Regions from separate parts of the Homo sapiens genome. Here all the other regions are linked to region 1. The links come from fine-mapping of genetic effects on gene expression. A gene starts in region 1. Each other region holds a variant in brackets. All regions are shown on one strand. Distances are between the middles of the regions.

Region 1 (7,672 bases):
TCTCAGTAAGTTCAGTGGGATCTCAGTTTAGTCAAGGCCTCTCACAAACCCCTCCCCAGCTTTGAGAGGTCTATATAGAGCCAAAGCCAGCAACTGGGACTGGAGAAGAAGACAGGACATGTGGTCCTCAGTCATCATCATCAATCCCTGTTGACATCTGCATTCTCATCTGGTATCCATTTGTACAGATGATTCAAATAACAGATACAGCCTCCTCATTCCAATCTTGAGGTCGCTTCAGGCTCTCAGCTGTCTCCTACCTTGCATCTCTTGAGGGGCAAAAAAACATTTGGCTGCTCTTCTGTGTGGAGCATGAAACAGGACACATTTGCAGCCATTTCTACTCTATACCTACATCGTGTTAAGTGCAGATGAATTTTATGAGGTCTGTCATTTCCTGAGCTCCACACAGCAAGGAGAATCAGATCCCCTCTTATCTCGTAGTCTCAAGCCTTTCTGGGGATTCTATGTCCCACCCCACTGCATCAGAAGAAGGAGACCAGAGACGCCTTCTTTTCCTCCAGTGGCTCTCCTCCTTCCACATCAGAGTGAATCAAATTGCTGGGGACTGAGGGGGTAGGAGGGACTGTGTCTGACTAATCATAGTATTCTTCCATGTCTGTTCTTCATACAAATATTTTATGCTCTCAGCTATAAAATAGACCACGTTCTGATATTTCAAAGGCTTTTTCTCTTTAAAGCCATTGTCTCTGCCTGAAATTTTAAGTGTATGTTTTTTAAAACCAAAAGCTAGGAGTTGTCCTCTTTGACTATTTTTCTACTCTAATGATCATCTCTGAAGATGTGAATGCCTTGCCCTCATGTTTTAGTTCTAATGAAGGAATTACTGGGAACAGAAAATACATTAATATTTCACAAAATTGTCCTACTGTACACATATGAAATCAGATGCCATAAAGTCTTAGTTAACTAACTCAAAATGGACCTCTTCCTTATTAAGCTAGGTCAATTAATCATGATCAAATATGTTCAGGCTAAACAAAGTCAGAAAAAGTATTTCCATTAAAGATTGGCTTTAGAAATTTACTATGCAAAAGTTCTAAAAAACAATACTCCTATTTAATTAAAACTACTTAAACATCTGCCATATTCTTAATTTTAAAAGTTTCTCTTTCTGAAACAGATTCAGGCTCTGCTGCAGGAAGCAATTAAGAAATGAGGATATTTGGCCAGGAATGGTGGCTCACAGCTACAATCCCAGCACTTTGGAAGGCCGAGACAGAAAGATCACTTGAGCCCAGGAGTTCGAGACCAGCCTGGGCAACATAGTGAGACCTCGTCTCTACAAAAAATCAAAAAAATTAGCTGGGCATGGTGGCACACACCTGTTGTCCCAGCTACTCAAGAGGCTGAGGCGAGAGGATCACTTAAACCTGGGAGGTTGAGGCTTCAGTGAACTGTGATCATGCCACTGCACTCCAGCCTGGGTGACAGAGCAAGACCCTGTCTCATTTAAAAAAAAAAAAAAGTTTGTGTGTGTGTGTGTGTGTGTATGTATAAAAGAAATAAGGATAGTCTGTAGTCTCAGACAAAAATATCTGCCCTCATGAAGTAAGGAAACAAATAATAAACAAGCAACACTTTGGGAAAGTAAGTAGTATATTTTATAATATTATATATTAGAACCTATTAATATGGTAGAAGGTAATCATGGCTTTTGAAAATATAAAGTGTGAAAGGGGAGAAGAAGTTCAGAGGTGGGGTTGAGTTTTAATTTTAAGAAGGGCAATTAAGGAAGGCCGTTTGAGTTAAGACCTAAAAAAGAAAAGGGAGAGTGTACAACTATCTGGGAGAAATTAATTCCAAGCAGAAAGAACTCCAAGCACAGAGGTCCTGAGGCAGGAGTTACATGGAGCAGTTAGGGAAAGGCCCTGAGCAAGATTGGCTGGAGGTGATGGCTGGACACGACAGAAACAGTAGGAACTGAAGTCAGAGATAGAAGAAGAGGAGGAAAGGTGCAAGACCTTGAGAACCATGGTTTTTTGGCTCAAAACAAAATCATTGGTGAGTAACATTCTTTAAAATATCGTACTCATCTCTAAGCATTAACCTTTTTTTAGAATGAAAGATAATTACACTACTCTTACAGTGCTTAAAATTGCATATTGGGGCTGGGCATGGTGGCTCATGCCTGTAGTCTCAACAGCTTGAGAGGCCGAGGCGGGAGCATTGCTTGAGTCCAGGAGTTTGAGAACAGAATGGGAAACATAGCAAGACCACATCTCTACAAAAAATAAAATAAAATAATTAGCTGGGCATGATGGCATGCACCTGTAGTTCCAGCTATTCAGGCAGCTGAGGTGGGAGGATCACTGCAGGCCAGGAGTTCAAGGCTGCAGTGCCCCAGGACTGTGCCACTGCTCTCCATCCTGGGCAACAGAAGGACACCCTGTCTCAGGAAAAACATAATTACATTTGTGGTTCACTTTGGGCTCACACGTGTAATTTTAAGTTTTCTGATAGCTACATCTTAAAAAATAAAAAAAATAAGAGTAGATACATGTTATTACACCTTCGTCTAAACCCACAGAATGTACAACACCAAGAGTGAATCCTAATGTGAACTATGGACTTTGGTTGATGATGTGTCAATGTAGGCTCATCAATTGTAACAAATGTACCATTCTGGTGCAGGATGCTGACAGTGGGGGGAGGTTTACATATGTGGGGGCAGGGACTGTCTACCTTCTGTACTTTCCACTCAGTTTTGCTGTCAACTTAAAACGGCTCTAAAAAATAAGGTCTACTTTGCCTCAACCTCCTGCCTCAACCTCCTGAGTAGCTGGGACTATAGGCACGCGCCACCACACCTGGCTAATTTTTGTATTTTTAGTAGATACAGGGTTTCACCATGTTGGCCAGGCTAGTCTTGAACTCCTGACCTCATGATCCACCCACCTTGGCCTTCCAAAGTGCTGGGATTACAGGCATGAGCCACCGCGCCCAGCCCCTGTCAAGAGTTTTAATGCTTTCCAGCAGCCACACATCAAATGATTGCCATCAGGATTAGACAACTTGAAGAACTTACCCCAACTGCCAAAGCCTACATGTGATTCTACATCCCAATGTAACTACTTATTTTTTTTTTTCTTTTAATTGAGATGGGGGTCTGACAACGTTGCCTGGGCTGGCCTCAAACTCCTGGGCTGAAGTTATCCTCCCACCTTGGCCTCCCAAAGTGCTGGAATTACAGGCATGAGCAACTGCGCCCAGCCGCAACTGTTAATAATGATAGCATCATGACTCTTTGGCCCAGTGACTGTGTCAATAGTGGTACTATTACTCTCAGAGGGGAATTGTTAAAATAAATTAAAATGAAGACCAGGTCTGCAGAATTCCTGAGCAGATAGTCAATTTAGTCCTCATAAGTGACCTTAAACTTACTTGAGTTAATCTGAGCTATTTCTTGTAAATGCATATATTAAAGAAAAACAGAACAAGCTCAACCAATCAGAAGTAGTCCACAAACTTGTATAACTAGAGGCTTTTTAGTGGGATAGACCAAATAAGGCAACTTTATAACTGTAACCAATCAAATATTTTCTTTTTATTACTTTCCCATTCACTCTGTAAAAATCTGCTTCTTCGACAGAGCTGAGCCCCAGAACCACTTCTGGTTTGCAGCTTCTCAATTCATGAATCACCGCGTGCTGAAGTAAACTTTAAAATTTTATTGTGCCTCAGTTTACCTTGTACACAGAAGCAACAGAGTCATCAGAGGAGATGTTTTAGATATTTTAACTTATTCATGTTTTCCTTTTGTAAACTCGAAAGAGAGGATAAATGTAAGAGCCCAAAAACATAAAAACCAACTTTAATATATGGATTTTGTTTAGAACTTGAAAAATTGTAAAAAGAAATCATGAGACAATAAGAAAAATGTAAATAATGACTGGATATTTAATAATATTAAGGAATTTTAAAAATGTTTTAAGTAATTTAGCCCCAGGTGTCTTCATGAGAATTTAAAACGGTGGTCATGCTTTTTCAAAAAAGGAGGAAAAAGGGTTTAATTCAGGAACACACAGAGAAAAAAAGAGACAATGAATTAGCTTTGCTAGCCAGTGGCTTAAACATTCTCCACGTAGCTGCTGGGCTGATGGGTGGGGTGGGACCCACTTCCAACTTGTCTCTTGGACAAAGTCTATACTTCTCAGCCGGATATTCAAGGCTTTCCACATCTAGGTATACAAGCGTTCTCCTATCCTCTTTTCCTATCAGGAATAGGTGCTTAATAGTAACATCAAGGCCAGGCACAGTGGCTCACGCCTGCAATCCCCGTACTTTGGGAGGAGGAGGCTGGGGGATTGCTTGAGGCGAGGAGTTCGAGACCAGCTTGAGAAATATGGTGAAACCCCTTCTCTGCAAAAAAAATATAAAAATTAGCCAGGCGTGGTCACCTGCGCCCGTGGTCCCAGCTATTCAGGAGGCTGAGGTGGGAGGATCGCTTGAGCCCGGGAGGCGGAGGTTGCAGTGAGCCGAGATCGCGCCACTGCACCCCAGCTTGGGCGACAGAGCGACTCTTGCCTAAATAAATAAATAAATAATTTTTAAAGTACAACAAAGACACATTGAGGCTATAGTGCCAAAGAGCTCTAGTGATGAACCCTTGTCAGGGGGCCGTGTCTGCGGGAGGCCGAAGGATCCCGGGTGACATGCTTTCTTTGGGTGCGAGGCAGCGTCTCGGCAGAAAGAATATTGCGAGTATTACTGAGGGTACATGAAGGAGAGAAGCCCCTTTGGTTCGGCCTTGGACTAAGCCCTTGTTCTCAGGTGAACTTGCAGTGTGATCTTGAGTAAGGTCAGTCTCCTCTCTCACCTCAGTGGCCCGAAACCTCAGGAGGTGGCAGAGGTTTTCTAATGACTCTCCCAGCTCTGACATCCTCTGACTTCACTCTGGGAGAACGTGGGCTGGTGGACTCCTGGCAGAAGCCGACACACAGTTGGGCCATAACAAAGAGCCCTGGTACGGGGCACGTTCCCGCCCCCGGGAGGTTTTGGAAACACTGTGAGGCAGGGGGCGGGGCTTGAGCGGGCCGCAGCCAGTCACCAAAGGGCCGGGCGCTGGGGGCGGGGCCTCGCGCGAGCGGCGGCGGTAGCGGCGGCAGCGGCTGCGGCCAAGCTGGGTCCGAGCATCCCGCGGCTCTGGAGCCGCCCGGCCCGGACATGGCGACCGTCCGGGCCTCTCTGCGAGGTGCGCTGCTCCTTCTGCTGGCCGTGGCGGGGGTCGCGGAGGTGGCAGGGGGCCTGGCTCCGGGCAGTGCGGGTGAGTAACCTCCAGAGCAACGGTTCGAAGCTGTCGGGAGCGGCCGCCACAGCGCTCCAAGATGGCGCGGGGCAGGGGGCGGGGGTGCGCGCGACCCCCAGACCCTGCCCACGTCCGGCGACCCCGGGACCCCAGGTCTCAGCGCTCCAGAGGCTGGTGCCGAGGCGGGGCGAGTGAGGAACTCTCTCCGCCCCAAGATCTTCTGGGCGGTGACTCGGGTTTGAGGCCTTGGTCTGTCACCCACCGACACGGGCCCCCTCTTCGGCACTGACCCCTTCGCTTGCCTCTGCTGCTTGTCAGAAAAGGGTGCGATGCCCCCGCCCAGGATCGTCGCGAGGTTTAGATGGGATTTCGGATACGCAGCCGCCCTACCGCGGCCCTAGTTAGTTATTGTTACTTGTTACTTGACCCGCACTTGGTTCATAACGACCTTGGTGGCGGTGAGCACTGACGGTCCCCACAGCCCGCGTGGTGGGTCCTGGACTCGGGCAGGAGACATTAAAAATCAGTAAACCCTGTCCCCCGGGGGCTGGCAGGCTTGAGGAGAGAAATTCTTGCTCTACAAGAACTAAACCAAGGATGGATAGGAAACTGTTAAGTGCTTATTGATTGCTTCCCGCTTGCTGGCCTTTTGAGTGCACGCCGACTCCTTCCGTCCAAAAGCTCTCTCGGTAGGAGATGGGGTACAGCAGGAGATTGAAGTAACTCGAATTCAAGGCAGAAATGTCCAGAGGAAATGAAGGGCCATGTATGAGTGCACAGAGGGAGAGAGGACATCGACCTAGGATGAGTGGAAAGTGGAGTGATTCCCCCTAGCTGTACTAGACATTGAAAGATGGCTAGGACGTGTGCATGCAAAAGTGGTGAAGTGCATTGCTTACAGGGAGACAGGCAGAGACACCTTAAAAAAAAAAAAAAAAAAAGCAAAGTCAGCCGGGTGCGGTAGGCTCTCCCCTGTAATCCCAGCACTTTGGGAGGTGGAGGCGGGCGGATCCCTTGAGCCCAGGAGTTCGAGGCCATCCTGCTTAACATAGTGAAACCCCGTTTCTACTAAAAATACAAAAATTAGCCGGGCATGGTGGTGTATGCCTGTTGTTCCAGCTACCCGCGAGGCTGAGATACGAGGATTGCTCGAGCCCCGGGAAGTTGAGGCTGCAGTGATATGCCACTGCCCTCGGAAGTGAGACCCTGTCTCAAAAAAAAATCAAAGTCAGTTCCAACAGGGGTATTAACTATAGCTAGGTTTCAAATTTAGCTGTAAACTATCCCAAAGAATAAAAGAGAAAATGCTGTGTATTCTTGGCTAAATCAGATTACTTTCCTGGGCCCCATTTTTCTCCCTGTTAAATTAAAAGAGATTGAACTGAAACACTTACAAAATTATGAAATACTAGTTGTCCATTCTCCTCCCACAACCAGTCAGTTCTGCAGGAGGTAGTACAGTGGAGTGGTTAAGAACATTGAGCAAATTACTTAGCTTTAATCTTTTTGTGCTCAAATAGCCACATTTATTATAAATGGTACCTCACAGATTTTATTATGAGAATCGAGGTAATACATGTCCAGCATTTAGCGTAGTAAGCAGTGAAATATTAGCTATTAAGTATGTTCGGGAAATACTGCAGATGGTACCCTGTCTTATAAATTCACAAAACACATTAGATTCACAATAAAGGGTCCAAGGATTCCTGTGGTAAAACAAACAAACAAACAACAAAAAAAAAAACAAGAAACTTTTTTGCTGGGGGAATGGCAGTGATTGCTAATGAGTATGAAGTTTCTTTTGGGAGTAATGAAAATGTTCTAAAATTAGATAGTGGTGATGGCTACACAACTCTGTGAATATACTAAAAACAACTGAATTGTACATATTAAAAGGGTTAATTTCATGGTATACAAATTGTAGCTCAATAAAGTTGTTAAAGAAAGAAACTTGTTTGCTCATAAAATTCTTTTTTTCTTCATAACACCTAAAGCGCACTTCAGAAAATGCTGGGTTAGTTGATTTCTAAAGGCCCTTCTAAGCTCTAAAAGTTCATGACAACATATAGTTTGCATTGTTTGATAAAAAAAAAAAATTCCAAGTTTGATCTAAAAGTGAGACATGTTCCTTATACTAAATTCTAGGAAGCATGTATTGCCTGGTTCCTTACTAAAGGACATTGAGTAATATAATGGACAAAGGCTTCCACTGTGAATTGTAGAAAGTATAGAAAATGCTTTTCAATCCTAAACAGAATTAAGAACACAATATAAAATTGTATTTCAGTGAAGGCTTTGCTTGTATTCCTGCTCAGTCTTCCTTCCCTTCTTAACCGCATCCAAGATTGGGTACTTCTGTCTGCTCTGGTATAAGGCTTTGCAGGTTATTGACCCCCTCTATTA
Region 2 (5,000 bases), 44 kb after region 1:
GTGTATGTCCTAAGCCCTCTCAGACTAATCAGCAGTATTAAAGTGGTAAAAAGATAGAGTTACATATAGTAAATTTAGGAGTCATTCATCAAAGAGGGAGATATGATCAGTCTATTAAATCATGATAGGTGTAACAGAATTTATTCATCAAATGCTGGTATACTGGAATGAAGGAACATTCTTTTGAACCTTAAAATGGGTAAAGAGGCAAGATGGTATTAACACTAAAGTGTTAGTGGTTAATGGTAATTTTCACATGATGCTGCCATGTGAAAATAGAAAAGATTAGTTCAACAAATTCAGGTAAACTTAGGCACAAAAGGTCTATTAATGAACATCAAGAGAAATAAGAGATGCTTGAAGAACATCTCTGAACTCTGGATGTGACATCAAGGGAAGCAACTGTGCCGTTTTCCTTTTTCTTCAGGTATTGGGAGACTTTTTCTGTAAGGGGCCAGACAGCAAATATTTTAGGCTTGGAGATCATTCACTCTCTGTTTATTCAACTTTGCCATAGAAGTGTGCTTAGCGTGAGGTAGCCATATAAAATATCTAAATAAGCCGGCATGCACCCATAGTCGCAGGTACTTGGGAGGCAGCAGAGTGGAGGCCAACCTGGGCAACATAGCAAAACCCTGTGTCTTAAAAAAAATTTTTTAATTTAAAAAAGTAGGTAAATGAAAAAAATAATTAAAATTTTAAAAGTATGTAACTGAATGGGCATGTCTGTCTTCCAATAAAAACTTTATTTCCAAAAACAGGTGGCAGGCAAGATTTGGCTTGTGTGCCATAGTTTGCCAGCCCCTGTTGTGAGTAAAAGCTATTGTCCATAAGTATTTCCCCTTTCTAGGCCTTGGCCTCTGACTTCTATTAAATAAGGAAGTTGGACTAGATGATTTCTCACATTTCGCAGGTTTTATCTCCTTTAGTAGTACCTCTCCCTGAAGCTAAGTGATCCACAGGCTGAACCACAGTGACATTTATTTGTAAAGTCAGTTTTTTAAACATCCAGGTTGAACAAATGTATAAGTCTCTAGAGCAGAGTTTATCAGTCTTGGCACCACTGGCATTTTGGTCTGGATAATCTTTTGCGGGAGGGAGACTGTCCTGTGCAGTGTAGGATGCTTAGCAGTGTGCCTGGCCTCTACTCACCAGATGCCAGTAGCACTCCCCACCCCTCAGTTGTGATAACCAAAAATGTCTCCAGGCGCTGCCAAATGTACCATGGGAAGCAAAATCACCCCTAGTTGAAAACCACTTCTGTGGAAAGTTCAAAAATAACTAGAAAAATATCAAATACTAGAAAATCAGGCCATGCAACCCAAGATAGCCACCAAGTTATCAAACATATTTATTCAGGTACAAGGTCAAAAAAAGCCAAACCAAAGGGAACAAAGATCTTATTAGAAGGAAAAGAGCAATGAGAATTGCATTCATCCAGTCAAAGAGGGCTAGAAAGTTGGTAGCCGACTACCTTTATTTTATTTTATTTTATTATTTGTTTGTTTGTTTATTTGTTTATTTATTTATTTATTTTGAGACAGAGTTTCGCTCTTGTTTCCCAGGCTGGAGTGTAGTGGCATGATCTCGGCTCACTGCAACCTCCGCCTCCCAGGTTCAAGTGATTCTCTTGCCTCAGCCTCCTGAGTAGCTAGGATTACAGGCATGCACCACCACGCCCGGCTAATTTTGTATTTTCAGTAGAGACAGGGTTTCTCCATGTTTTTCAGGCTGGTCTCGAACTCCCGACCTCAGGTGATCCTCCCACCTCGGCCTCCCAAAGTGCTGGGATTACAGGTGTGAGCCACCTCGCCCAGCTGGTAGCTGACTACTTTTTAATATTGATTTAGATCATTTTAAAAGTGTTCCTGAGTCCAGTGAATCCATTTAAATAGAGAGTTATCTATAATGCATAACTGAAAAGTCACACTAAAAGAAGGAAACATGAATGAAGAGAGATATAAACAAGATCATTGTTAATGAACACTAAGAATATTTACTTTTTCACTCCTGTTATATTGCTTGATGGAGTCTCTAGCAGAAAGAATTCATACTGGGTGAATTGAGGAACCCTTATCTATGAGGCCCAGGGTTTTCTGTTTTATTTTGCTTTAAATTGTTAAATCAAGTGTGGCATATTCCTACAATGGAATATTATTTAGCAGAGAAAATGAATGAATACAGCTTCACACAGCTACATAGAGGGATCTTTGAAGCTAGGTTTTAAATGCCAATAGCTGATCCTTTAACAAATCCCCATCACCTAGCCAGCTTGCAATATGGCTGCAATTAAAAGCCAAAATCGTCTCGTTTCAACAATAAGGGTGTGCTTGATTTCCTTCT[G/T]CCTGTAATTTATGCCCATATTATTTCTTTTAGGAAGTAATTATCCTCCCATTGTGATTGATTATTATTCATAGCTGACAAGCCCTAAATATCCAAATGGCTTTGTATAAGTTTTTCATTTTTGTCTTGTTTTGGGTTTTATTTTCTTTACATTGACTTTAATACAGGGTGGTGTTTTCTGAACAATAATCTAAGCACTCTAGAGACACTAATTATAGTCTCAAACTCGCTTTTGACTTTTTCTATTACCTGGGGCGGGTCTCTTTTACCCTGCTGAGGAAACAGTTTCTTCATCTGTAAAATGATAGATTCCCAAACTCTGGTCCCAGGATGGCTATAAAAAAACTGTATTTCAAGTCTTGTTTAAAATTTAGATTTCTGTGCCTCACCCCTAGATTCTGAATCTGTAGTCTAGGGTAAGGTCTAGGAAACTCAGATGATTCCAGTGTACAGCCATGTTTGAGAACAAGTAGAGATAATGTCTAAAATCCTTTCAAATCTAAAATGCAGTGGTTACATGAAATATATATTTCCCTAGATGTCATTTATTAGATTATTTTCTGGAAAGTTTTTATATCCTGCAAGGAATAATTAAGATTAATACATTGTAGCCCCTCCCACACACTTACAGCTTTACATAAACTTGGTTTGCTATAACTGGTCAGCTTATGGCTCCAAGTAGTCATCTTGATCCTGATATATGTTGGAAGATGGTTTCCCTTTTTACCAGAATATCATTTCATAACTTCTGTGTTTTCAGTCTTGGATTTAGGGAAGAATTAAATAGTTTTAATATCATGATTTCCATGTAACCATAAAGTGGAATTAAATTACAAATTCTCTCTGGTTGTTAATTTCTGTTTATTTGTTTTTCTTCAATTTACAGAATGCTCTTTTCAGTTGCATTAGCAGAAATGAAAGTAAGTATATTTGTCAATGGTTGTACAAACAGTCCAAAGATATAATTAGCCATCTGAAGCAATGTGCACAGCAGGATTCCGATAGGCTCTTTCCCATGGTGTATTTAGGTCATTCATGTATTATAACAATTCCCATGTCTTAACTGTAGATCTACAATGCAGATACTAAAGCTCAGTGTGCTAGAGGATGATCACAACCCAATAAATAGGCCCATTTTCAGAAGTTAAGTACACCCATGCTATATAATGTAGCACTTGCCGAGTGCTACGTCTCAGTTCATTCAACAGACGTTGATTGAGTACTTGGTCAGTGTGGGGCAGACACACATCTGTGGAGGACACGACCTGTACACAAAGAATGCTGGGATATGGTAGGATATGAGATAGTGTCACTGGATAAAGTGCTCCAGGAGTTCAGAGAAAGAAGGGATCATATTCTGCAGGGGTACTTAGAGGTGGCTTCATGGAGTTGGTAGCTGATCCCGGGCATGAAGGATGGGTAAGATGTGAACAGTGGAGAATGAAGGAAATGGAGATTGGAGGAAGGGCTTACAGGTGAAGGGAACAGTGAGAGCAGACAGACATGGGAAAACACATGTAAGGAACAAAGAGTTCTTTAGCTCAGCAGGAAAGTATATTGAAGGATAATAAGAAACATTTGCTGTCTGTAATTTATCTTCTATCCTTTCTAACTGAGGCTTAGTTCAAGATTTTCCAGGTAGTCTCAGGCATGTAATCTTATGTCCTCCCACACTGGTGAAAAAGCCAGCTGAATGGAGGAATCAGAAGATAGGCATCTTGTCCTGTTCCTATGTGTCTGTTCTTATATGTCCTCACCATTCCCCACCACCACCCCCAATGTATCCTCACTGAGGTTTACAGTGATAAATGCAGCCATTAATCATTGTTCTTTGGCCAGGCGCTGTGGCTCATGCCTGTAACCCCAGCACTTTGCGAGGCAGAGACAGGTGGATCACTTGAGGTCAGGAGTTTGAGACCAGCCTGGCCAATATGGTGAAAACCCATCTCTACTAAAAATACAAAAATTAGCTGGGCATGGTGGCACGTGCCTGTAATCCCAGCTACTAGAGAGGCTGAGGCAGGAGAATCGCTTGAACCCAGGAGGCAGAGGTTGCAGTAAGCCAAGATCGCGCCACTGCACTCCAGCCAGGGGACAGAGTGAGACTGTGTCTCAAAAAAAAAAAAAAAAATTTGTTCTTTGTGAAGAAAATGAACTCTTTGGCAATAAACACAATAAGTTTGGTAGTAGTTGCAAGTTTAAAAGAGGCGGTACAGTAGGTATGGAATAGTTTCCTGGTCTGGGAAACTGAGACTTGTCCTATATCAGTTCAGTCCTAGTTCAGTTTCTTTGGTTATGACTTTATTATTATCATTATCATTATTTCTGGAAGTCACCAGAATCCCTGCTCATGGGTCTTTGGAATTCACCAGAAACCTGATTCTGGTTCCTCCATATCTATCCCTAATAATTATCAAGAATTTCCTCCCTGCTTTCTCTCTCTCTCTCTCTCTCTCTCTCTCTCTCTCTCCTTTTTTCTTTTTGAGACAAGATTTGGCTGTGTTGCTGAGGCTAGAGTGTGGTGGCGAGATCTTGGCTTACTGCAACCTCCGCCTCCTGGGCTCAAACCATCCTTCTACCTCAACCTCCCTAGTAGTTGGGACCACAGGCACATGCCACTGCACCCAGCTAATTTTTGTATTTTAGGTATAGATGGG
Region 3 (7,944 bases), 110 kb after region 1:
GCTTGGCACAGAGGAGGCTCTTGAGAAGCCTTCGTTCTTCTCTTCTCTTCCTTCCTCTCCTTTGTTCACTTCAGAGATCTGAAGTCAGCTGCCACCCCTGTCTATTTTCTTCTACTGCTTTCCTCAGCTGTCCTTGAGCCTGATCCCCCTCCCAGGCCTCCTCAGTCACCCGCTGCCTCTTTCCATCATTCCCTTTGTCGCCTGTGACCCTGAGGAGGGGTGGGGGCTTAGGACAGGGCTTTGCATAGGATCTGGACTAGTTGTGGGAATTTGGGCAGGTAACTTCCCTTCTCAAGCCTCAGTTTCCTAATTCGAAAAGAAAAAACATGGGTAAGGTCATGGCAGCTCCCACAGAAGATGGCGAGAAATAAGATCATGCGTAGGCCCAGCACATGGCCAGAGCAGGAGAAAGCAGGCCCGGGATGGGTGAGCCTGCGTCTTCCTCATTCCTCAGGGTTGGCACTCTGAGGCCGTGTGGACTTTCCAGCCTCAGTTTACCCTCCTACAAAATAAGGACGTCATCCCTGCCCTTCCCCCATCGTAGGGTGGCTGGGAGGGCTCTCCCTGCCTAACTGGGAGATGGACGACTTTTCTTTGACTTTTTCTTCCTCCTCTTTATCTGTATTCTTGGGTTTTTCTCGGTGGGGGTAGGGTGTGCTTCTTGCTAGGTGTGGCAGCTACTGATAACTTTGCCTCCCTGGGGCAGGCCCTCTCAGAGGAGCCACCTGGGCTAGGACTGGCTGCCTGGTGGGAGGGGACTCCTGGGGCTGCCCAAGGTGTGGTTGTGGGGCCCTTATGCCTCCCAGCCAGGAGTGGGGAGAGAGGACTCCCCCACCACCGATTACCAGAAAGACCTCCTGGCCCCTTCCAGAGAACCCTGGCTCAGGAGCCTGGCGTTGGCGGACACAGTGCCTAGCTGCAGCTTCTGGGCATTGAGCTTTGCTTGGACACAGGAACTTTCACTTTTGTTTCTTTTTACTTCCCATATTCTGGGAGTGCAGTGACCTAGTTTTTAGCGGCCTTATATGTCCCTCTCTGCCGAGGAGACTTGAGGGCCTCCAGCACTATGGGATCCAGTGCAAACTGACTCCAGCACTCAGGCTGCCTTTAAACTGGCTTCCCCTTAGCAAGCCACCTACTCCTCTGTCTCCCCCTCCTCTTCAGAGCCCCAGGATACACGTGGTCCCTTCATCCTGGCTCTTTCTGTGCTGTTGCCTCCTCCATTCATGCTTCCTGAGCCAGGAACACCTCCTCCAGGGAGTCCTCCTTTCCTGACGCATTTGTGGTCACCACTGCACGTGCCACTCAGCCTCATGCATCTCCCGTGGTGTCCCACGAGACCCACCGTGGCCTGTCTGGGACATGGGAGCTAGAAGGGACTTTAGGATGGGCCTGGACAACCCTGCCACTCAGATGGGGACCCCCGTCACCTTTGCGGTGTCACCTATACGGGCCCTTTCCCGCACACTCACACTCGTTCTGATCAGCGTCTCCTGAGAGAAGCTTGTTTGGGAAACTCCTGCACGTCTTGGGTCAGTTGTTCATCTTGTCTCCTCTCACTCCTACCCCAGCAGGACCTTATGGGATCTCAGGATTGGAAGGGACTTGAAGGTCCTCTGACTCTCAGGCCTGAGTCCCTCCAAGAGGGACTCACCTGCCTGAATTCCTTCAGTGGTAGAGAGCTCACTACCTTGTGAGGTAGCTCCTTTTGGTCGCCAGAAAGCTTTGACTAGGAAAGATCTTTCTTAGGCTGAGCTGAAATCTGTCATCCTGCCTTTCTACCCACTGGCCCCAGCTTTCCCCTCTGGGGCCCCAGAATTCATCAGAGGCCTCCACCGTGTCTTCCAGAGGCTGATCCTCTCCAGGCTGAACATCCCCCATCCTTGTACCAATTCCTCATCAGACCCCTCTTCCAGCCTCAACACACCTCAAATCACCACTGCCTCTTGCACAAAACAGGGACCAGGCTGGGGAAGCAGCCCGTGGCCCAAGAACCCATGGGTTCCTGGAGGCCATGCTACCCAGCTGACCCTTCTTAAACTGGTCAACGAGACCCCCATCTGGGTCCCATGAGTTGCTATGGCCCCTGGCATTTCCCTGTGAGATATTCTTTAAAAGCCTCTCTGACTCCTTATCCCAAATACCACATTACCATGCTAACCCTGAAATCTTTTTGTTTATCATGGTAAAAATGCATAGCATAAAATGTATTATCTTAACCATTTTTAAGTGTACAGTTCTGTAGTGTTAAGTATATTTACATTGCTATGCAACAGAGCTCCACAACTTTTTCATGTTGCAAAACTGAAACTCTATACATGTTAAACAACACCTCTGCCTTTTCTCCTCTCCACTGTAGACCTGAAATCTTTGTTTTTCCTATTGACAAGGGCTTGGTCCGTCTGTTGGCCAGGAAGTCCCGATACTTCAGGTTGTAGCTCCGCCCTCTGCCTTAATGCCTGTCCCCATGATCAGTTTCCACCTCCATGTCTCCCCACCTCTGCCTGTCAACCAAAACCTCACAAATCCTGGGGTTCAGAGCCCCCATATCCCTGCCCTGCCCACATTACTCTGACTGGACCTCACTGGACAGCCTCACTGAGCCCAAGTTCTAGAGCTTGCGCCGCGTACTCTTTGTCTAAGCGTCTACTTCCTCCTTCTCAGAAGGCCCACGGACAGCTCCACCATGCAGGTGTGACCTGCAGTTACCTTCACCTTCTGGGTCTGTAGCTCCCGGGTCTGCAGCCCCCAAACCCCGCAAAGGCAAGCCCTGGGTCTTCTTTCCCTCACGTCTCCTCAGAAATTCCATGGGATTTGACTTGGCCCAGGAGACATGGGAGATCTGGCTATGAGAAAAGGGACTAGGACTCCCTGTTGCATCATCTCCTCAGTCTCGGGTGAAAGGCAGCAGAGTAGAAGAAAGGCACCAGTGAAGGTGAGCTGGGGCAGAGGAAGAGAGTGGCACTTCCTTTATGGTTCACACCCTTCCTGCCACTACCCACAGCCAGTCTTTGAGGGACAAGCCTGTGGCCTGATGGGACCAATTCAGCATAAGGGCCCTCTGTGGCCCTCACTCAGAACTCATCCAACTCACCCCCATTTCCAGAGAAAGGAACTCCCAGATTCCTGAGTATGGTGCTCAGTGTCTTCATCATAGCCTGGCTGGCTAGCCCCTGTTCAGATATTTCTGGGGCCTCATATTGGGAGTTGCCTCCTTCCTGATCCCATGTTAGGTTAATCTCCAAGTTCCTTTTGCACCTGTGCTTACCTGCATCTTGGCACCTATCACATGGCTAGTGTCTGTTTACAAGGCTGCCTCCCTTCCGTATGGGAGCTCTTTGAGAGCAACACATGGCTGACTTGTCTCTGGACCCTTAGCACACAATATGGGACATGGCACAGGGGAAGCACTCAGAGAGCAGATGAACAGTTAAATGGAGGATAGATGGATGGACCTTGGATGAATGGTAGATGTATGGATGAATGATGCTGGATGGATGAGTAATGTTAGATGGATGACAATGTTGCATGGATAGATGTATGGAAGATATTAGGTGGATGGGTGGGTAGATGGAGGGAGGATGTTGGATGGATGGATGGAGGATGTTGGATGGATGTATAGATGATGTTGGATGAATGGTGGATGGACAGATGAATGGAAGATGTTGGATGGATGGATGGTTCGAGGATGTTGGATGGATGGATGGATGGGGATCATTTCAGATCCAAATTGGTATGGCTTCTGTTCACTATTGATCTTGCTTGCTTTTGGCTTCACCTACTTATTCTCTCCCTAACCACAGCCTCCTTGACTTTGCCCTTTCTGAGATCATGACCTAATTGGGCATGGGCTTCACCTTTTCCCCCACTGCAGCCCTGGGCCTGCTGATCATACCACTCACCCTCCCACCAACTCCACTTTCTTTGCTACACTCTTCTCCTATTCTGCATCTTAGTCCATTTTCTGCTGCTATAAATTACACTGGGTAATTTATTAAAAAACAGTTTATTTGGCTCACGGTTCTGGAGGCTGGGAAGTCCAAGAGCATGGCATTGGCATCTGGCGAGGCCCTCATGCTGCATTATCCCATGGAAGAGCAGAAGGGCAAGTAAGCACTCAAGACGGGGAGAAGATCAGCCCAAACTCATACTTTTACCAGGAGCCCAGTCCTGTGATAATGCCCTCTAATCACCTCTTAAAGATCTCACTCCTCCGCATGGTTACATTGACAATTAAATTTTAGCATGAGTTTTGGAGGGGACGTTCAAACCAAAGCATTCTGCCCCTGGCTCCCCAAAACTCATGTCTTCCCCACTTACAAAATATATTCACTCCATCCCAATAGCCCCAAGTCTTAACTTGTTCCAGCACCAACTCAAAGTCCAAAGTCTCATCTAAATTAGATACAGGTGAGAGTCAAGGCACAATTCCCCCAGAGACATATTCCTTCCAGCTGTGAGCCTGTGAAATCAAAAGAAGTTATCTATTCCAAAATACATTGGTGGGACAGGCATAGGATAGATACTCTCATTCCAAAAGGGAGAAATAGGAAAGAAAGTAACCAGTCCCAAGTAAGTGCACAACCCAGTAGGGAAAACATTCAATCTTAAGGCTGGAGAATAATCCTCTTTGATTCCCTCTCCTGCCTCCTGGGCATGCTGAGTGGGAGTTGGACCCCAGGGCCTCAGGCAGCCCCACCCCCATGGCTTAGGGCTGTCCGGCTTCAGCTCTCGGGTGGAAGCCTCGTGCTTGCAGCCTTCCCAGGCGGGCGTTACATGCCGGTAGCTCCACAGTTCTGGGGTCTTGGGGC[G/A]GCTGCACTTCTACAGCTCCATTAGGCACCGTCCTAGTGGGGACTCTGCGGTGGCTCTGCCCCTGCAGTAGGTTTCTGTGTGGGTCCCCAGGTTGTCTGATTAGATGGCACCCACCCACGTTGAGAGTAGATCTTCCCCACTCAGACTCACACACCAGTCTCCTCTGGAAACACTCTCACAGACACACCCCAAAATAATGCTTTACCAATTCTCGAGGTATTTCTTAATTCAGTCAAGTCAGCACCTAAAACTCGCCCTCACACTCTGCTTCCCCAGGGCTGTCCTTCCCTCGTCTCTTTGTCTGTCTCTCTGTCTCCTTGGCTTCACCCACCCAGCATAGGTGCCCTCCTCCCCAGCCAGGAGGCCTCTTTCTGGACTCCCAGCTCTGGCCCATTCCAGTCCCCTCTGCTCTCCCTAGGTCCAGCCTGAGATACCCGGTCTCCTTCAGATATTTTACTTCCAAAGTCCTATTGCTGACTGTCCAGGTCCCCAAATCTGCTCTGTGTTTCTGTGCATCCTCCACTCAGCAGCCAGCAAGGTCTTTGAGAAACACATGGAGCTCACTGCCCTGCTCCCTTTCAGTGGCTTCCCATTGCCTTGGATAAAGACCCAAATGCCTAACAGGGCCCATAAGGCCCCACATGATCCACGGGCTTTAGATGTGCAGAGATGTGGAGCGCGATGCCAGGTAGGGTGAGCAGTGGCGTGGAGCAGGGCCACTTGGCTGGGGTGCCAGGTGTTGGAGGGGAGCAGCAGCCTGTCCACATGGCCTAAGGTTTGAGCTGGGTGTTGCTTTCAGCATGCCATTATACTTTTGATGAGTGTTTTCTCTGCACTGAGCCATTCTCCATTTTGCAATCATTCCAGCTTCCAAACAGTTTCATAATGAGGTCCTGAAGGCCCACAATGAGTACCGGCAGAAGCACGGCGTCCCCCCACTGAAGCTCTGCAAGAACCTCAACCGGGAGGCTCAACAGTGAGTCCCCTAGCACATCCGGGTAACTTGGCCCTTCATGTGCTGCTACTGCAGTCACAAAGGGGCCCTGTGGCCAGGCACGATGGCTCACACCTGTAATTTCAGCACTTTCAGAGGCCAAGGCGGGCGGATCACCTGAGGTCAGGAGTTCAAGACTGGCCTGGCCAATATGGTGAAACCTTGTCTCCACTAAAAATACAAAAATTAGCCATGTGTGGTGGCATGGGCCTGTAGTCCCAGCTACTCGAGAGGCTGAGGCAGGAGAATTGCTTGAACCCGGGAGGTGGAGGTTGCAGTGAACCAAGATTGCGCCACTGCACTCCAGCCTGGGTGACAGAGTGAGACAACATCTCAAAAAAAAAAAAACGTTGGGGGGCCCTGCATGGTTTTGGGGACCGGGTTTTGGGATCAGATATAACCACACTTGAATAACCACTCTCTCACTCACCTGGGCAGGTCCTTTTAGTTCCCCTGAGCCTCGACTTGTTCCTCTGTGGAATGGGACTGCTGGGAGGCTCAGAAATCATGCAAGAGTGGTGCTCCTCTGTGAGCCCGGGGCAGGGAAGGAAGCTCAGCCACACTAGCTTGGGGCACATACTTTGGGGGTTCCCTGAACTGCACCTGCTCTGAGGAGGCGCTGTGAACTCTGCAGGTATTCTGAGGCCCTGGCCAGCACGAGGATCCTCAAGCACAGCCCGGAGTCCAGCCGTGGCCAGTGTGGGGAGAACCTTGCATGGGCATCCTATGATCAGACAGGTGGGTCGCATTTTCAGCTCCTCTCCTCTCTGCGGGAGCTGGAAGAAGGACAAGTCCTCCTGAAATGCCTCCTGGCCCCAGCACCCTCGTGGTGTAGCCACAGGCCCAGGAAAGGAAAGAAAAACCAGAGCTCTCTGAATCTGCTCCCAGGCTGACTTCAGTTCACCACAAGGTCTCTGATGGCTGGCTCAGTGCCAGGCCTGTGCTGGGTGCCAGGGACACAGAGATGAGTCAGACTGACCAGGCCCCCACTTTCGGAGAAGCTCCCAGGCCGAGGAGTGGGGGTTGGGGAGACAGACCGCTTTTGTACAGAATCTCAGCCTGATTCTGTGTCCACCAGAGCATCCCCAGCTACTGAGAAATGTTATTTTCTTCCCGAGAAATTTTACTTTCTTACCGTACTGGTGATACACTACCAGTAGTGCTGGTGTATTACTTTTATAATAGGAGAAAAGCAATAGAGCTTTTTCCATTTTGGAAAAAAAAATAATAATGGAAAAGACAATGTCTCCATGCAAGGTCTCGATCTGGAATGATCCCACCATGCTGCCCAGACATTCTTGAGCTTCCTGGCCCTCTGGCCCTGACAGCCCTGATGTGGCTTTTTAGGAAGAATATTGGAGAGCTGTCTGGATCTCTGAAGCTTTCTCCAAACACCAGTGGGAGAATGACTCACTCCCTCCCCAGCCTCACATTCCTGGGAGATCCCCCAAGTCCTCTTGGTTTCCCCAGCACAGCCTAAGCCAGGGCTCCTGTGCAACGTGGTCCTTGGCACCCCCACTGGGAGGCATGTGTGAACTCCTGGGGAACCCCCTACCCACCCCTCCCTCCAAGGCCTTGCCCTCACCCTGCAGGCTCCTTCCCAAGTCCAGGCTGTGGCCCTCGATGGGCCCCGGGAGAAGGGCATAGGTTCAGGAGACATGGTCCATTCCAGCCTCGCACAGCCTCCCTCGGGAGCCTTGAGCAGGTCCCTCCCTCCTCTGCCCCCAGTTTCCCATCTCTACAGAGAGGGGGTTGGGTAGGTGGTCTCTGAGACAGTGCTTCCCTACTCTGGTCGCACATTGGAATCTTTTGTGGAGCTTTAAAAAAATACCAGGCTGGGCACAGTAGCTCACGCCTGCAATCCCAGCACTTTGGGAGGCCGAGGTGGGTGGATCACCTGAGGTCAGGAGTTTGAGACCAGAATGACCAACATGGAGAAACCCCATCTGTACTAAAAATAGAAAAATTAGCCAGGCGTGGTGGCACATGCCTGTGATCCCAGCTACTCGGGAGGCTGAGGCAGGAGAATCGCTTGAACCTGGGAGGTGGAGGTTGCCGTGAGCTGAGATCGCGCCATTGCACTGCAGCTTGGGCAACAAGAGCGAAACTCCGTCTCAGAAAACAAAACAAACCAAACA
Region 4 (7,829 bases), 92 kb after region 1:
CACATGAACTTAGATTTTACATGAAGTATTTTTTCAGTATTATATGTACCCTCTGAAATACATAGGGATATGCGTATTATACCAAAATGTTGCTGAAAAATGGGCACTTAAAGCTTTCAGAATATGTCAGTGCTGATGTAGCATGCTTGTTGCAATTGCCTTTTTTCTGTATAAATGTCTTTAATGCAATATACTGGAAAGCTTTTCTATTTTAATAAAAATAATTTTTATATGATCATGCATGCTTCTAAGCAATGTTGACATTCAAAAAGGAAACCACTGATCACCCTTAGGTGAGCTGTGTCCTTTGCTCGGGGATAAGAAGTCATGGAAATTAGCCGGGTATGGTGGCACATGTCTGTGGTCCCATCTACTTGGGAGGCTGAGGCTGGAGAATCGCTTGAACCTGGGAGGTGGAGGTTACAGTGAGCTGAGATCACACCACTGTACCCCAACCTGTCTCATACCTGAGACAGAGTGAGACCCTGTCTCAAAAAAAAAAAAAAGAAGTCATGGAGTGCTATTATCCCAAGCCAAGGGCCCTGGGAGAACAGGCCAGCTAGGACACAGTTGGTCAGACCAGAGGGCAGGCAGTGACAGAGAGTCAAATACAAAGACCCCAGCTTTCAGCCTTAAGGACAGAGAGAGCTTCAGGCCTTCCAAGACTGCATACTAGGCAGTTCTCCCCACTGTGCTGGTCCTGATGTTCCAGTTCCAGGGTACACCTGGGGCAGGGAGACCATGGGAATATGGAGATGGAGGGCTGCTGATGGGACCAGAGAAGTGGTACCAATCAGCTTAGGCTAAGTCCCCAAAACTTCAGTGGCTTACAACAGAGGCTTCTATTTTGTTCCCTTCACATGTCCATTGTGGGTCAGCTGCCACACCTGATACTATCTTCACTCCAGACCCATTCCAGCGTCCTCACAAAGGGCAGAAAAGAGACATAGAGGACCACAAGCTGGCCCTGAATTCTCTGCTTGGAAGTGATGCTGTCATTTCTTTCTACGTTTTACTAACCAAAGCAAGTCACATGGCCACTCCAGAGTTCAAAGGGTGGGGACATACAGTCCTCCCACGGTGTTTTGTGTGTGTTGGGGGAGGGACAGTAAGTATTTTGAATAACACTGTCTACCATAGACATCTTTTCTCATCAGGCTAGGACAATAGCCAGGACTGACAAGATTTTTTATTAGAGAAGTAGATGTTTCCAGCCTGGTCAACATAGCAAGAACCCATCTCAAAGAAAATGCAAGGCGTTTAATAGGACAGGTTGGAGAAGGTGATCAAATGGTACAGGCAACCTGCCATGGGAGGTGTGAGTTGGGGGAGGGAGCATCTAACAAGGGGGAAGACGCAAGCCCTCGAAAAGAGGGTTGGTTTGCACCAGGCCTGGAAGAAACCAGGAGACTTTGCCAGATGGCTTTGAGAAAGGCATTCTAAGTAGGAGGTACAGCTTGAGCAAAGGTGCAGAAACGACAGAGTCCAGGTCCGTTCCAGGGGTAGAACAGCAGGGCTGACATGTTGTGAGGGGCGTGGTGTGGGGAAGTATAAGGCAGATCCGATGTGCCCAGCTTGAATGCCAGGCCACAGTGGCATCCTAAGCCTCTGCCCTTGCCCTTCCAGCTACACTGACCAGCCTGGATAGCTCTAGCCTGCAAAGGATTGTGTGCCCCAAACTTCAGTGCCACGAGACCTTCAAGACCATCCACTGATCTTGTTACTAGGCAGTGCTTCCCTCTGTCCTGTGAGCACCCTGGACTCTCCTGAGGAAATAATAACTGAGCAGGCTGGGGGCCAGGGTTCCCTTAGGCCTGGTCCCCACCCTTAGAGTTCAGCCAGGGTCTCTTTCAGCTCCACTGTGGGAGGAAACTTAAACCCACCAGGAACACTGATCGTCACTGAAGAAACTGCACTTTCCTTCGTTTGATTCAATGCTTCTCTTTCAGCCTTGGGCTGATGGGAGTCAGGCCCACACACTCCCACAGAGGGTGCTCTAATTCTCAGAGGGACAGGAGGCCCCGCTGCAGGGGCCTTT[C/T]CTTCCCTGCCTCCCAGCTGCAGAAGAGGCTTGAGTTGTGCACTTTGCAAGCTGAGAGAAAGTGAAGGCAGAGGCGTCATTCCCAGGGATGAGCCAGTCCTTCCAGCAGTCCAGCAATCTTGGGGCTGGAGGGCAGATTTCCACGGTGCACACAGAGAGAAACCAAGAGTACAGGGACCAAGCTGTGGTTACACAGGGAGTCAGGGTGAAGCCACGGCCAGAGGCCAGGTCCAGGCTTTCCCTGGCACAAGGCAGCCAGGCAGGATTTGTACTTCTCAGAAATGGAACTGGCCATAAAGGAGGTTGCCATGAAGGTAGATGCCAGAAGGTGAGCAGAGTGAAACAGTTCCAAGGCCAGGTGAGCCTGGGTGGGTCTGAGCAAACAGGTTCAAGGAGCATCAGGAATCATAAAAAGTAACTGACACAGTTCGCCAGCTCACTTTCTAGGGCAGTTTAGGGAGTGCTTTTCACCATGTTGTCTCCCGGCCCAAAGCAAAACGCCTCACACAGAGAGCAAATGCCAAGTCTAAGGTTGAGTTTCATTCTAGAGCCCAGCCTCAGGGCATTAGGCTGATGGTGGAGAGGGTAGGGAAGGAAGCCTCACAGGGTGAACACTCTGTCCCCTGGCTCCACCCACTTTTCCATTATTCCAAAATGAAGTTCACTGTATTGTTTTTTCCTTGTAAAAGTTACGTGTGCACCTTCCCCCAAGTACTTGGAAATATAAATAAAGGAAAAAAAATCCCATACCTTCCTCTCCCTGCCTCTACAAATAAGTGCAGAATCCTTCTAGAGCCTTCTCTGTACATATCTATCTCTCTCTGTAATCAGGGCAAGGTACCTCCTCTGTCTGCAATGGGGAGGAGGTGGTTACCTCACTGCCCTGTGCGGGGAAATTGAGGGAAACGGTTTCATATTTGGGATGTTGTCTACTGGGCGGTACATCCTTGCCTAAAGGTTCATAGGTGGAAGCCCTATCTTGGCCAACACCCACCAGGTAATCAGGGGGTGGGTCTTTTCCTAAAGACCACCTCCTCTGTCTTCTCCAGACCAATCTCCCACTGAACTCTACTGCAAATGCAACCAGTTGCTTTGCCAAACAGAAGTGTAACCACTTAGGCAGGGCGCGATGGCTCATGCCTGTAATCCCAGCACTTTGGGAGGCTGAGGCAGGCAGATCACTTGAGCTCAGGGGTTCGAGACAAGCCTAGGCACCATGGCGAAACCCCATCTCTACAAAAAATACAAAGGCATGGTGGCATGTCCCTGTGGTCCTAGCTACTTGGGAGGCCGAGGTGGGAGAATGGTTTGAGCCAGGGTGGTTGAGGCTGCAGTGAGCCAAGATCATGCCACTGCACTCCCGCCTGGGCAACTGAGTGAGACCCTGTCTCATCCAAAAAAAAAAAAAAAAAAAAGAAGAAGAAGAAGGCTAACCATTTATGTTGGTCAGGGTCCTAGCAGGAAAACGAATGGTCCACCCAAATTAGGATTAATTGGAGGAAAGTTTAATAAAGGGGCTATTTATAAAGGTGTGGGCAGGATGTAGGGAAACCACAAGGCATAGTACAACACGCCAGGCCTCAAAGTGGAGCTGTTAGCACCTCTAACCCCTAAGCCTAACGGAGAAGCCATTGCTTCTCTCCCTTGGGTCTCCTCTCACAGCTCCCACTGGGAACCCAGTTGAAAACCCAAGGACCAGGCAGCCTGTGCTGGTAGTCATACAGGTCAGCCTTCTGGGGCAGAGATCAGGGCAGAGAGTGGAAATAAGGAAGGAAGTGGAGCAAAAAGAAGATACCCAGCACAGCAGGCCAGGGTGACACCAAGAAGAGCACTCAGTCGGTTGCACCACTCATTTTGGAGAAAGGGCTCTCGGCTTAACCCTTTGGACCATGTTCTGCTGAATGCTCCTTCCTGACCTTGCTCAGCCTCCTCAATTCCTCTCTGTCTTCCTCTCACAGCCCTTTATCAAGCCCACATTTGCCAGTGCCTCCACCCAGCTCCCTAAGAATTCGTCAGCCCTCTGCAACCCAAGAAAGCAGTCCAGGCCCCATGCCCCTTCTTGTCCCCCTTCTTGCTGGCACTCTTCTGACCAAAAGCCTAGAGCAGAACTGCAGTGCACTAGTGCAGGCTATTGCAGAAACTTCCTTCTGCCCGGGATTTGCTGGCTCTGAAGTGGAGGGCTGGGCTCTGGCCCCAAAAGGAGGGGAGTAGGGGGAAGGTGGACGCCTGGATCCAGCTCACCTTCTTCATCATCAGGAAGCTGCCCCACAGCAGGCACGCATCCTCATGGCGAGTATTCATGTTCTTCCTACAATGGCCCAGTCTGGCCACGTGTGAGCAGAGCAGAGAGTCCTCATGATAAAACGGATTTGGTCGTGTGTTTGTGAAATAAGCCCATATTGGGTGATTTTGAAACTCGTTGTTGTGGTTGCTATTGTAAATGTTTCCCCCATGACATAGTCCAACTGGTTATTGATACTATGTAATAAAGCAATTGATTTTTTAAAATTTTTTGGACCCCCTGGCTGTCATTTTAAATTTCATATTACTTTATATTTATTGGATTTTCTGAGGTTTTTCCAGGGAGAAGCCATAATGAAAACTTTGCTCTTTCTTTTTCAAAGAGATAAGATACCTCTTATTTCTTCTTGTTGCTCTAGTATTGGCTAGAACTCCCAGAACAATATTGAATAGCAGTGGGGACTGCAAGAAACCTTGTTGTGTTTTGGATTTTAATGGGGATGTCTCCATTGTTTTATTGTGAAGCATGACATGTTTGCTTTAAGCGTAACATGTTTTACTGTTAGTTTCAAGGGACTTCTTTTTATTCTGCTATGGAAAAGTAAGAGTTTTTTTAAACTCAGTAATAAATACTCAATTGTATCAAATATATTCCAGCATCCATTTACAGTATATTTTTCTTTGACTTATTAATATTGTGAATATATTTCTTTTTTTTTCTTCTCCCCGAGACAGTCTTACTCTGTCATCCCGACTGGAGTGCAGTGGTGCAATCACGGCTTACTGCAACCTCCAACTCCCGGGCTTAAGCAATCCTCCTGCTTCAGCCTTCCAAATAGCTGGGACTATCAGCACATGCCACTATGCCCAGCTAGTTTTTATTTTATTTCATTTATTTTTGAGACGTCTTCTCTCTCTGCCGCCCAGGCTGGAGTGCAGTGGCCGTGATCTCGGCTCACTGTAACCTTCCGCCTTCCGGGTTCAAGTGATTCTCCTGCCTCAGGCTCCCGAATAGCTGGGACTACAGGGGCTTGCTACCACGCCCGGCTAATTTTTTGTATTTTTGTTTTTGCGGGTGTTTTGTTTTGTTTTGTTGTGTTGTGTTTTTGAGACAGAGCTTTACTCTTGTTGTCCAGGCTGGGTGCAATGGCGCGATCTCGGCTCACTGCAAGCTCCGCCTCCTGGGTTCAAGCGATTCTTCTGACTCAGCCTCCCGAGTAGCTGGGACTTGCAGGCGCATGCCACCATGCCCAGCTATTTTTTGCATTTTTAGTAGAGGCGGGGTTTCCCCATATTGGCCAGCCTGGTTCCTCTTCTTAAATATTAATAATTTGTATTTTCTTAGAAAATTGCCCAATTAAGGAAAATTATTAGTGAGCAGTTGTCTATATGTTTTTTCTGAACACTTCTAAAAAAAGATTACATCCCCTTTTTATTACTAATGTGGTACATTTGAGTTTTCTCTTCTTTTAGACTTCTTTATTCATTTGATTTTGTAGTGATATATCTATTTGATATGTCTTCCAGCTCTAGGTTATATTTTTCAATCTTGCTCTTTATCTGTTTTCTACTATATAATTTTTTGTTTTTATCTACATTAACTGCTTTAGTCAATTTTAAACATCTTATAGCAATCTTATTATAGAAACATTTTCCTGTATTTGCTTATATTTATCCATGTATTCTTCTGTCCATCCATCTTACCTTTTATGTGTTTCAAAGTTGAATCCATTTAATTTTTTATGGATTCCGAAGTAAGTTGAAAACATCAATACATTTTACCCTGAAACACTTCCGCATTCATTCACTATTTCTTTATGTTTCTTTCCTTTCACTTATTTTTTGTTGTCTAGCTCCTTTAGTTCAGTGCTTTACTTTTCTTTTTAAATAAGTAATATAATAATATTTAAGATTTACTAACTGGCTGGGCACAGCGGCTCACACCTGTAATCCCAGCATTTTGGGAGGCTGAGGCAGGTGGATCACCTGAGGTCAGGAGTTTGAGACCAGCCTGGCCAACATGGTGAAACCCCGTCTCTACTAAATATACAAAAACTAGCCAAGCATGGTGGCACATGCCTGTAAGGTCTGTAATCCCAGCTACTCGAGAGACTGAGGCAGGAGAATCACTTGAACCTGGGAGGCGGAGGTTGTAGTGAGTCGAGACTGTGCCACTGCACTCCAGCCTGGGTGACAGAGAAAGACTCCATCTCAAAAAAAAAAAAAAAAAAAATTAACTAAAAAAATTAACTCTCATGTTTCAGGACAGTTTAGGGAAATTTTTAAATCAGACATCAGGGGAGAATCTTCTCCCTCCAGACCCCAAATTAGGTAATAGACTATTTTTATAAGTCAATGCATGTAAGATTCAGAATTCTAAGAAAAAGATGTCAATAAGAAAAGACTTTTTGGCTGGGCCCAGTGGTTCATGCTTGTAATCCCAGCACTTTGGGAGGCCGAGACAGGTAGATCACCTGAGGTCAGGAATTTGAGACCAGCTTGACTAATATGATGAAACCCTGTCTCTACGAAAAATACAAAAATTAGCCTGGGATGGTGGCAAGCACCTGTAATCCCAGCTACCTAGGAGGCTGAGACAGGAGAATAGCTTGAACCAGGTAGGCGGAGGTTGCAGTGAACCAAAATCATGCCATCACACTCCAGCCTGGGTAACAAAGCAAGACTCCATCTCAAATTAAAAAAAAAAAAAAGAGAGAGACTTAATTTTTTTTTTTTTTTTTAAAGACAGGGTCTCACTCCATTACCCAGGCTGGAGTACAGTAGCATGATCAGAATTCACTGCAGCCTTGAGCTCCTGGGCTCAAGCCATCCTCCCACTTCAGCCTCCTGAGTAGCAGGGACTACAGGTGTGTGCGCCACACCCAGCTATTTATTTTTAATTTTTTGTAGAGATAGGGTCTTGCCATGTTGTCCAGGCTGCTCTTGAATTCCTGGCCCCAAGCTATCCTCCCACCTTGGACTCCTATGGCACTGGGATTACAGGCATGAGCCATCCTGCCTGGCCAATAAGAGGGAGTTTTTCATTAAAATCCCTTTATTTTCAAGTCAAGGAAGTATTAAGTTATAAGAAGTTACTGTCTGTACTTTTTTTCTCAGTCCTTTGATGGTGAATCTTCTTTCCTTACAGGTTTCAACCCTCTGGGCACAGAGTCAAATATTCCCCTCTTAGGAAGGGTATACAAGGCCGGGTGCAGTGGCTTATGCCTATAATCCCAGCACTTTGGGAGGCCGAGGAGGGCAGATCATGAGGTCAGGAGTTTGAGACCAGCCTGGCCAACATGGTGAAACTCTGTCTCTACTAAAAATACAAAAATCAGCCGGGCATGGTGGCGCACGCCTGTAATTCCAGCTACTCAGGAGGCTGAGCCAGGAGAATTTCTTGAACCCAGGAGGCAGAGGCTGCAGTGAGCCGAGATCATACCACTGCAGTTCAGCCTGGGCAACAGAGCAAGACTCCATCTCAAAAAAAGAAAAAGAAAAGCAGAGCAAGATATTTTGAGCCCAGGTCTAACTCACAACCGATGTTCAT

The links. PIP is the estimated chance that this variant, and not a neighbour inherited with it, causes the effect. A credible set is the group of variants that fine-mapping cannot tell apart.
Region 2: its variant is the best candidate, but not a certain one, in a credible set for the expression of RECK in whole blood (INTERVAL, PIP 0.62).
Region 3: its variant is the best candidate, but not a certain one, in a credible set for the expression of RECK in whole blood (INTERVAL, PIP 0.51).
Region 4: its variant is the best candidate, but not a certain one, in a credible set for the expression of RECK in whole blood (TOPMed, PIP 0.65).

The regions. Positions count from the first base shown.
Region 1 is chr9:36,031,812-36,039,483 of GRCh38, forward strand. RECK (reversion inducing cysteine rich protein with kazal motifs) reads left to right here and starts at 5,102. Exons shown (of 21, transcript NM_021111.3): 1 at 5,102-5,287. The coding sequence starts at 5,188. RefSeq lists silencers at 5,022-5,221, 5,232-5,381.
Region 2 is chr9:36,077,376-36,082,375 of GRCh38, forward strand. RECK (reversion inducing cysteine rich protein with kazal motifs) reads left to right here. Exons shown (of 21, transcript NM_021111.3): 7 at 3,230-3,263. Among named protein-coding and RNA genes, the nearest start is that of RECK, 43 kb to the left of the region's middle. The variant G/T (reference allele first, on the strand shown) is at 2,344.
Region 3 is chr9:36,142,107-36,150,050 of GRCh38, forward strand. It overlaps GLIPR2 (GLI pathogenesis related 2), which reads left to right. Exons shown (of 5, transcript NM_022343.4): 2 at 5,680-5,788; 3 at 6,441-6,544. Among named protein-coding and RNA genes, the nearest start is that of GLIPR2, 9.3 kb to the left of the region's middle. RefSeq lists enhancers at 6,400-6,449, 6,790-6,869. The variant G/A (reference allele first, on the strand shown) is at 4,812.
Region 4 is chr9:36,124,218-36,132,046 of GRCh38, forward strand. It overlaps RECK (reversion inducing cysteine rich protein with kazal motifs), which reads left to right. Exons shown (of 21, transcript NM_021111.3): 21 at 1-238. Among named protein-coding and RNA genes, the nearest start is that of GLIPR2, 8.6 kb to the right of the region's middle. The variant C/T (reference allele first, on the strand shown) is at 2,039.